Regions from separate parts of the Homo sapiens genome. Here region 2 is linked to region 1. The links come from fine-mapping of genetic effects on gene expression. Tissue or cell type: whole blood. Region 1 holds a variant in brackets; the other region holds the start of a gene. All regions are shown on one strand. Distances are between the middles of the regions.

Evidence for each region. PIP is the estimated chance that this variant, and not a neighbour inherited with it, causes the effect.
Region 2: it holds the start of USP30-AS1, and the variant in region 1 is fine-mapped to the expression of USP30-AS1 in whole blood (TOPMed, PIP 0.94).

What each region holds. Positions count from the first base shown.
Region 1 is chr12:109,073,392-109,077,633 of GRCh38, forward strand. It overlaps USP30 (ubiquitin specific peptidase 30), which reads left to right. Exons shown (of 13, transcript NM_032663.5): 7 at 47-141. Among named protein-coding and RNA genes, the nearest start is that of ALKBH2, 18 kb to the right of the region's middle. The variant G/A (reference allele first, on the strand shown) is at 1,959.
Region 2 is chr12:109,052,307-109,056,548 of GRCh38, forward strand. It overlaps USP30-AS1 (USP30 antisense RNA 1), which reads right to left and starts at 1,659. Exons shown (of 2, transcript NR_038996.1): 1 at 1,380-1,659; 2 at 1-432. It overlaps USP30 (ubiquitin specific peptidase 30), which reads left to right and starts at 270. Exons shown (of 13, transcript NM_032663.5): 1 at 270-455. The coding sequence starts at 373. RefSeq lists enhancers at 464-963, 1,297-1,666.

The sequences.
Region 1 (4,242 bases):
GCCAAAGGGCTAAAAGTGACATATCAAAAAACTTTTTGCATTCCAGGGTCACCTCACCCTACATCCAATCACTGGAAGTCTCAACATCCTTTTCATGGAAGACTCACTAGTAATATGGTCTGCAAACACTGTGAACACCAGGTAAATACAATACCAACACTTGATATTTCCGGGAGAGGTTTTCCAAAAGTTAGGATTCTTGAAAGGACCTAGAGAGTGGGCTGACATCGGTCACTGGTGTTAGAGACTACCTGGCCTCTGCACACTAGTGGACTGACTACCCCACTTTGGTCAGTGTCAGCATGTCATTTGAGGTCAGATGGCATCTTCTGCACCAAGGACAACAGACCCACTGTGGATTGGCAGGCTCTTGAGTCCAGTGGTTGAGTCTATGCTCATGGTGGACACAGTAGATTCTAGGGCTGGTTTTTTCCCCTTTACTTTTGAGGTTTTAAAATAATATTTTATTATGGAAAATTTCCAACATCATACAAAAAGAGAGAATTGTACAACTGTCACCCCAATCCATTTTATTTTATTTTATTTTTTCACAGCCATTACTGACTCCGGGATCAGTCAACTTTATAACATTTTCATTGCCCCCTAAAGAAACTCCATACTCATTAGCAACCTCTCCCCATCCTTTCCATCACCCTACCCTTGTCAACCATGAATCTACCTCTGTCTCTATGGATTTGCATATTCTGGATGCTTCATATAAATGGAATCATGTAATGTGTGGCTTTTTGTGTCTGGCTTCTTTCATTTAGCATAATATTTCCACGTTTCTTCCATATTTTGGCATGAATCAGTACTTTGTTCCTTTTATTACCAAATAATATTGCATTACATGGATCTACAACATTTTTATCCATTCATCAGTTGATGGGCATTTGGATTGTTAACACTTTTTGGCCATTATGAATAATGTTGCTGTGAACATTTACATACAAGTTTTTGTGTGGACATATATTTTCACTTCAGTTGGGTATATACCTCAGAGTAGAATTGCTAGCTTATATGGTAACTCTTTTGTTTAACCTTTTAAGGAACTGCCAGACTGTTTTCCAAAGTGGCTATGCCATTTTTCATTCCCACCGGCAGTGTATGAGGGGTTCCAATTTCTTCACAGCCTCACCCACATTTTGATGTCAGCCCACTCTCTAGGTCCTGTCTAACATTGAGGTTCTAGCCATCCTACTGAGTGCAAAGTAGTATCTCACTGTGGCTTTTTCCCCCAGTTTTATTGAGATCTAATCGACAATAAAAATTGTATATATTTAGGGTGTACAAAGTGAAGATTTGATGTATGACTGTGTGTGTGTGTGTGCACGTGCACCTGTGCTCATATGTGGTGAGAACACTCTCTTAGTATATTTCAAGAATACAATACAGTATTATTAACTGTAGTCACCATGCTGTACGTTAACTCTCCAGAACTTATTCGTCTTATAACTGAAGGTTTGCATCTTTGAGCAACATCTCCCCACCTCCCCAGCCCCTGGCAGCCAGCATGTACTCTGCTTCTGTGAGTTTGACTTTTCTAGATTCCATATAGGTATGAGATCAGGTGGTGTTTATCTTTCTATATCTGGCTTATTTCACATAGCAGATGTCCTCCAGGTTCATCCATGTTGTCACAGATGGTAGGACTTCCTTTTTGATGGCTGAATAATATTCCATTATATGTGTATACCACATTTTCTCATTCATCTGTCTGTGGACATTCCATATCTTGGCTATTGTGAATAATGCTACAATGAAGATTGTTTTGCAGATGTATCTTTGAGATACTGATTTCATTTCCTCTGGATATATACCTAGGAGTGGCATTGCTAGTTCATATAATAGTTCTATTCTTAACTTTTTGAGGAACCTTCATACTGTTTTCCATTTACATTCCCACCAACAGTATGCAAGAGTTGCCTTCTCTCCACACCCTCGGCAACACTTGTTAC[G/A]TGCTGTCTTTTTTTTTCAGACAGAGTCTCGCTCTGCTGCACCCAAACTAGAGTGCAGTGGTGCCATCTTGGCTCACTGCAACCTCCGTCTCTTGGGTTCAAGCAATTCTCCCACCACAGTCTCCCAAGTAGCTGGGATTACAGGCACCCGCCAACACACCCAGCTAATCTTTTGTATTTTTAGTAGAGATCGGGTTTCACCATATTGGCCAGGCTGGTCTTGAACTCCCAACCTCAAGTGATCCGCCTGTCTCGGCCTCCCAAAGTGCTGGGATTAAGGCATGAGCCACTGTGCCTGACCACATGCTGTCATTTTGGTAATAGCCATCCTAACAGGTGTGCGGTGATAGCTCTTTATGGTTTTATTTGCATTTCCCTGATGATTAGTGATATTGAGTGCCTTTTCATATACCCACTGGCCATTTGTATGTCTTTTTTTTGCAAAGTGTCTGTTCAGCTCCTTTGCCCATTTTTTAATCATGTTACTTTTTCTTTTTTTTTTTTTTTTTGCTGTTGGTCCATATGAGTTCCTTATAAACACTCTTTTAGTGTATTTCAAGTATTCAATTTTGGATATTAACCTCTTATCAGATATATGGTTTGCTAATATTTTCTTTCATTCCATATGTTGCCTTTTCATTTTGTTGATTGTTTCATTTGCTGTGTCATTGCGGTTCTGAGTGACATTACCTTGAAGACTAATATGTTGAATGGTCTTTTTAAAAATAAGGTTCATATATTAAAAGATATGTAAGATATGTTAAGGAACTGTAATCTATAAGTTGACTATTCATCTCTTTTTTCCGTGCATTATTTTGATACTATTGTAAGTGGAATTTAAAAAAATTTATTTTCAAATTGTTTGCCACTAGTATATAGACATACAGCTGTTTATATATTGACCTTATATCTTGAGATTTTTGTAAACATTCATTTATTACTTCTAGAAGCTGTAGAAGTTTTGTTATGTATTCCTTAGCATTCTCTGTGTATGCAAACAGTCATGTTGCTTATGAATAGAAATAGTTTTAGTTCTTCCTTTCCAACCCAATCTTTATTCCTTTTTTTTTTTTTTCTTTGCCTTATTATCCTGGCTAAGACTTATGGTACAAAGTTAAATAAGAGTGATGATGGCAGACATCTTTGCTTTGTTTCAAATCTTCTGAAGCAAGTATTTGGTGTTTTATAATTAAGTATGATATTAGCTTTAGGTTTTAGTATACCTCTTTATCATACTGACAAACTTCCCTTCTGTTCCTAGTTTGCTGAGAATTTTTGTAATGAATAGTGATTGGATTTTGTCAGTTTTTTCTGCATCCATTGAAATGATCATATTTTAGTCTTATTCTGTTGACTTGGTGAATTACAGTGATTGATTTTTTCTTTTTTTTTTTTTTTTTGAGACGGAGTCTTGCTCTGTCGCCCAGGCTGGAGTGCAGTGGCGTGATCTCGGCTCACTGCAAGCTCCACCTCCCAGGTTCACGCCATTCTCCTGCCTCAGCCTCCCGAGTAGCTGGGACTACAGGCGCCCGCCACCACGCCCGGCTAATTTTTTGTATTTTTTAGTAGAGACAGGGTTTCACCGTGTTAGCCAGGATGGTCTCGATCTCCTGACCTCGTGATCCGCCTGCCTCAGCCTCTCAAAGTGCTGGGATTACAGGCATGAGCCACTGTGCCCAGCCAGTGATTGATTTTTCTAATGTTAAACCAACCTTTCTGGGATAAACCCCACTTGATCATGATGCTTTATTGTTTTTATATATTATTGAATTTGATTTGCTAATATTTCCTAAAGGATATTAGTATCTGTGTTTATGAGGAATATTGTTCTTACACTTTTCTTCTCTTGTGATGTCTTTGTCAGGCTTTGTTATAAGGATTATACTAGCCTCATAAAATAGGCTGGAAAATGTTCCTTCCTCTGTTTACTGAAAGATTTTGTTTAATATTGGTATTATTTCTTGCTTGTTTGCTAAAATTTGTCTTTTCTTTAGCTCTATTTCTGCTAATTTTTTTTAAACTTTGTTATTGGATACAAGCATATGTATTATGATGAGTTAACTCATCTTGTCATGATAAATTGTCCCTCTTCATCTCTGCTAAGACTCCTTGACTTGAAGTCTATTTGAATGATTCATTTTTAATCTAGCTAATGTTTATTTGGTCATTTCTTTCTGTCATTTTCGGCCTTTGTATTTAAAGTGTGACTTTGTGGACAGCATATAATGGGTCTTGCTTTTTTAACTAGCTTGACAATCTTTTAGTTGGAATGCTTAGTCCATTT
Region 2 (4,242 bases), 21 kb before region 1:
CCTCCCTTCCCCACATCGAAAAATTCAAATCATGACCCAGGGTCCATCCTAGAAGTGTGCCATCTGTATTTATGAATGGAGCCTAAGCAAATCTGAAAACCAAGCAGCCCCAGGCAACTGAGCCCAGCGTAGCAACCGACGCCGGGGCCTGTTGCTAAGGGAAAAGAAAGAAAGGACGTGGTCCGTCAGCTATTGCTCTCCGGGGGCAGCTACTTCCGGTCCCCCTGGGAGCTGTCCTGCGGTCTACGTTCCCCCGAGGTGCTGGGACTGCGGCCGCAGGTTCCGCTGTCTCGGGAACCGTCGTATCCCTCGGTCCGGCGGCGGCGGCGGCGGTAGCGGAGGAGACGGTTTCAGGCCTCCGGTGCGGCTGCAATGCTGAGCTCCCGGGCCGAGGCGGCGATGACCGCGGCCGACAGGGCCATCCAGCGCTTCCTGCGGACCGGGGCGGCCGTCAGGTGAGATTTTGGGGGGCGGGGCTGCCGAAGAGGCCGGGACCAGGGTCCCCAGCTTGGGCCCGTGACGGCTTTTTCATGCCCTAGTTGGGGTCTCCAGGGCCCGCGCGGGCATTCTGGAAGGTTCTGCGTCCTTTAGGGTTGGAGGCCTGGGCCCGTAGGTGGGAGGACTGACGGGCTCCAGTCCTTCGGCAACACCAATTCTGTCTGCACTCCCCAGGTCTGTCAGTCCCTCCCCCTCCTGTCATTGTTCCCAGGACACCCGGGGCACTCCAGTCTTGTCAAGGCCCCTAATTCTGTCAGTGCCCTCAGTCCTTTCAGTGCCTCCTAGGCCTGCCAAGACCCCTCAATCCTTCTAGTATACCCCCAGTCCTTCTGGGTCCCCCAATCATATCAGTTTCTGGACTGCCAGGGTTCCCCAACCTTGGCACGGTTCTTCTAGTCCTATAAGTGCCCCGGGCCTGCGAGCCCCGCGTTTTGTTAGTACCGCCCCCTATTCCTGTTAGCCCGCCCTCTAGTCTAATATGGATCGCCACTTCTGTCTGGGTCCCTGATGTTGTTAGTGTGAGTAAAGGCCCTTGTTTTGCAAGGGTCTCTAAATTGGTCAGGGCCCCTTTAACCTGTTAAGGTTGCTTGGTCCTGTTAAAGCCCTCCGTTCTTGTTAGGACTCCTCGATTGCCTGGGTCCCCAATCCTGTCAGGGCCCCCATTTCCCTCTTATTCACCCTCCCAAGGGCTCCAGGCTTCAGAACTGAGTACCCCCTCCCCCACTGCTGACCCCAAATGACTGAGACCTGTTGCTCAGGTCGGCTTCCTCTGGAACTGGAGCAGGTTTAAAGAGCTTATTATCCCAGGGCTGAAAGTCCTCGATACTTATCCTGTCCAGTGCCCCCATTCCGTAGATAGGAAGTGTGGCCCCATAGCTGACCTCATAGCAGAGTTGGGAGGAGAAGCCAGATCTTTTCATCCGCAGGCCCCACCACTCTCCTCGTGATGTCATTTTGCAGAGGAATGGAGTTTCCAAAGTCGCCACTTGTCCCTGGGTATTTTTTCCTTATGCTGCCAAAGTCATGGACAAGTCCTCTCTCCCATCCCCTTGACACTCTTCCCTTCAGTTTCCATCTTGAACTTCGTGGTTTTAAGCACAGACCTGGGGAGACAGACAGGCATGATTCAGAGCCATGTTCCTTCACTCACTGTGACCAAGTTGGGCTCTTAGTTTCTTCTGCTATAAAAATGAAAGTGATAGTAGAACCTGCATCTGTGGGGTTGTTTTAAAAATGAGGTAAGATTGTCACAGGGCCTGGCAGAGAGTATGTACCCTTAAATATTAGTGTTTGATTAGGGGATTTTAAAGCACTGGTAAAGCACCTTAGCACTTCCATGACAGTCCTTTATAATCTTTCCAGGCACTTTTGTGAACTCACGTATCGTGTAAAAGCACAGTGATGTATTAAGAAACTTCAAGAATACCTTTCACCAGCTGGGCATGGTGGCTCACACCTGTAATCCCAGCTCTTTGGAAGGCTGAGGCAGGTGGATTTCTTGAGCTCAGGAGTTCGAGACCAGCCTGGGCAATGTAGTGAGACCCTGTCTCTACAAAAAAATTTAAAAATTACCTGGGCATGTGGTGTGCAGCTGTGGTCCCAGCTACTTGGGAGGCTGAGGCAGGAGGATCACCTGAGCCCGGAAGGTGAAGATTGTGTTGAGCTGAGATGGCACCACTGCACTCCAGCCTGGGCACTAGAGCAACTAGAGCAAGACACTGTCTCAAAAAAAAATAAAAATAAAAATAAGAAAAAAAGAAAGAATAGCTTTCATGAATGATCCTGAGATTGTAATGCTTAATTTGTAGCAGCTAACATTTATTAAGTTCTTACTATGTACTGTATGCATTCACACTTATTTAATCCTCACAACAGCCCTATGAGGTAGGTCTTATGGATTGTCCCCATTGTACAGATGAGGAAACTGAGGCTTAGAAGGTGAAGTGATGCCAAATGAAATAGCAAAGCCAGGATTGAACCAGAATAAGGTAATCCCACTTTCTTAACCAAGTTTGGTGCATATTCTGTTGACTCTGTCTTGGAAAACAAATATTTATCTGAAATTCAGCTATCAGCTATGATACTAAGAAATGCTGATTATTATAAAACAGGGTCAATATTACCACCAGTGACTCTTCACCAAGTTAATGTTTACTGAACTGAAATCAAAACAATATTCACATGATCCAAATACTGGGATAATAATGTATTACACACACACACACACAAACACGTATGTATGCATGTGTAACATATATGCAGATACACATTACATAGCTATATACACATAGATGGTTTGTCTTATTTTGTAGAAATATATAACTTTGTATAAAAACAATGTTTTAAATTGTTGGGGAAATTTCTTAATATGTAGCAAAAGCATAACCAGCGTTCAAGTCAAGCCTGAAGTTAGGAAATCTTTAATTTTATAAATATTCAGCTCTTTTATACCATTGTATGTGTGCCCCTTCCCTGTCTAATATTCTAAAAGAGAAATTCATTTCTGTATATTTTCTCCAGTATTCAGTCATTCAATAAATATTTTATATATATATACACACACACATATATATACATATATATATATATATATATATTTTTTTTTTTTTTTTTTTTGAGGCAGAGTCTCGCTCAGTCACCCAGGCTGGAGTGCAGTGGCGCAATCTGGGCTCACTGTAACCTCCGCCTCTTGGACTCAAGCCATTCTGCCTCGGCCTCCAGAGTAGCTGGGATTACAGGCACCTGCCACCACACCCAGCTAATTTTTGTATTTTTAGTAGAGACAGGGTTTCACCGTGTTGGCCAGGCTGGTCTCCCACTGACCTCAGGTGATCCGCCCACCTCGGCCTCCCAAAGTGCTGGGATTACAGGCATGAGCCATCACACCTGGCCTCAATAAATATTATTGAGAACCTACTATGTGCTAAGTATGATCTAGACACTTGAGCTCATTAGTGGGTAAAACAAAGCACATGCCAGTTGAGGGAGACAGACAACAAACCCAGTGCATTAAAAAAAAAAAAAAGAAAAGAAAAAAAACATAGCGAATAGGTTAATTTTATGTTAGAAGGTGGTTAAGTTCTATGGTAAAAAGAAAAAGTAGAAACATGTCAAGGGGACAAGGACAGGTCCCACTGATATGTTCAGGTAGGCCTCTTGAGAAGCGAAGGGAGGTAAAGGAGTGAGCCAAGCAGTGATCTGGGGGAAGAGCATTCTGAGCAGAGGGAACAGCAGTGCAAACGCCTTGAGGTCAGAGCATTGGCTGGTAACGTTCCATGTGGAAGTGGAGTGAGAGGCAGAAAAGGAAAATAACTTCAGTTTTTCCTCAGAGTGAGAAGTAGCCTTTGGAATGTGATGATTTGACTTAGTTTTTGTTGTTGTTGTTGTTGTTGTTGTTGTTTTTTATGAGACTGAGTCTTTCTCTGTCACCTGGGCTGGAGTGCAATGGCACGATCTCAGCTCTGTGCAAACTCTGCCTCCCAGATTCAAGTGATTCTCCTGCCTCAGCCTCCCGAGTAGCTGGGATTACAGGTGCACATCACCACGGCCAGCTAATTTTTGTGTTTTTAGTAGAGACAGGGTTTCCACATGTTGCCCAGGCTGATCTCAAACTCTGGGGTTCAAAGGATCCTCCTGCCTTGACTTCCCAAAGTGCTGGGATTACAGGGATGAGCCACCGTGCCCAGCTGACTTAGATTTTAAATCCTAATGTCTAAACATCCTGATTTTCAAGATGTAATCCTA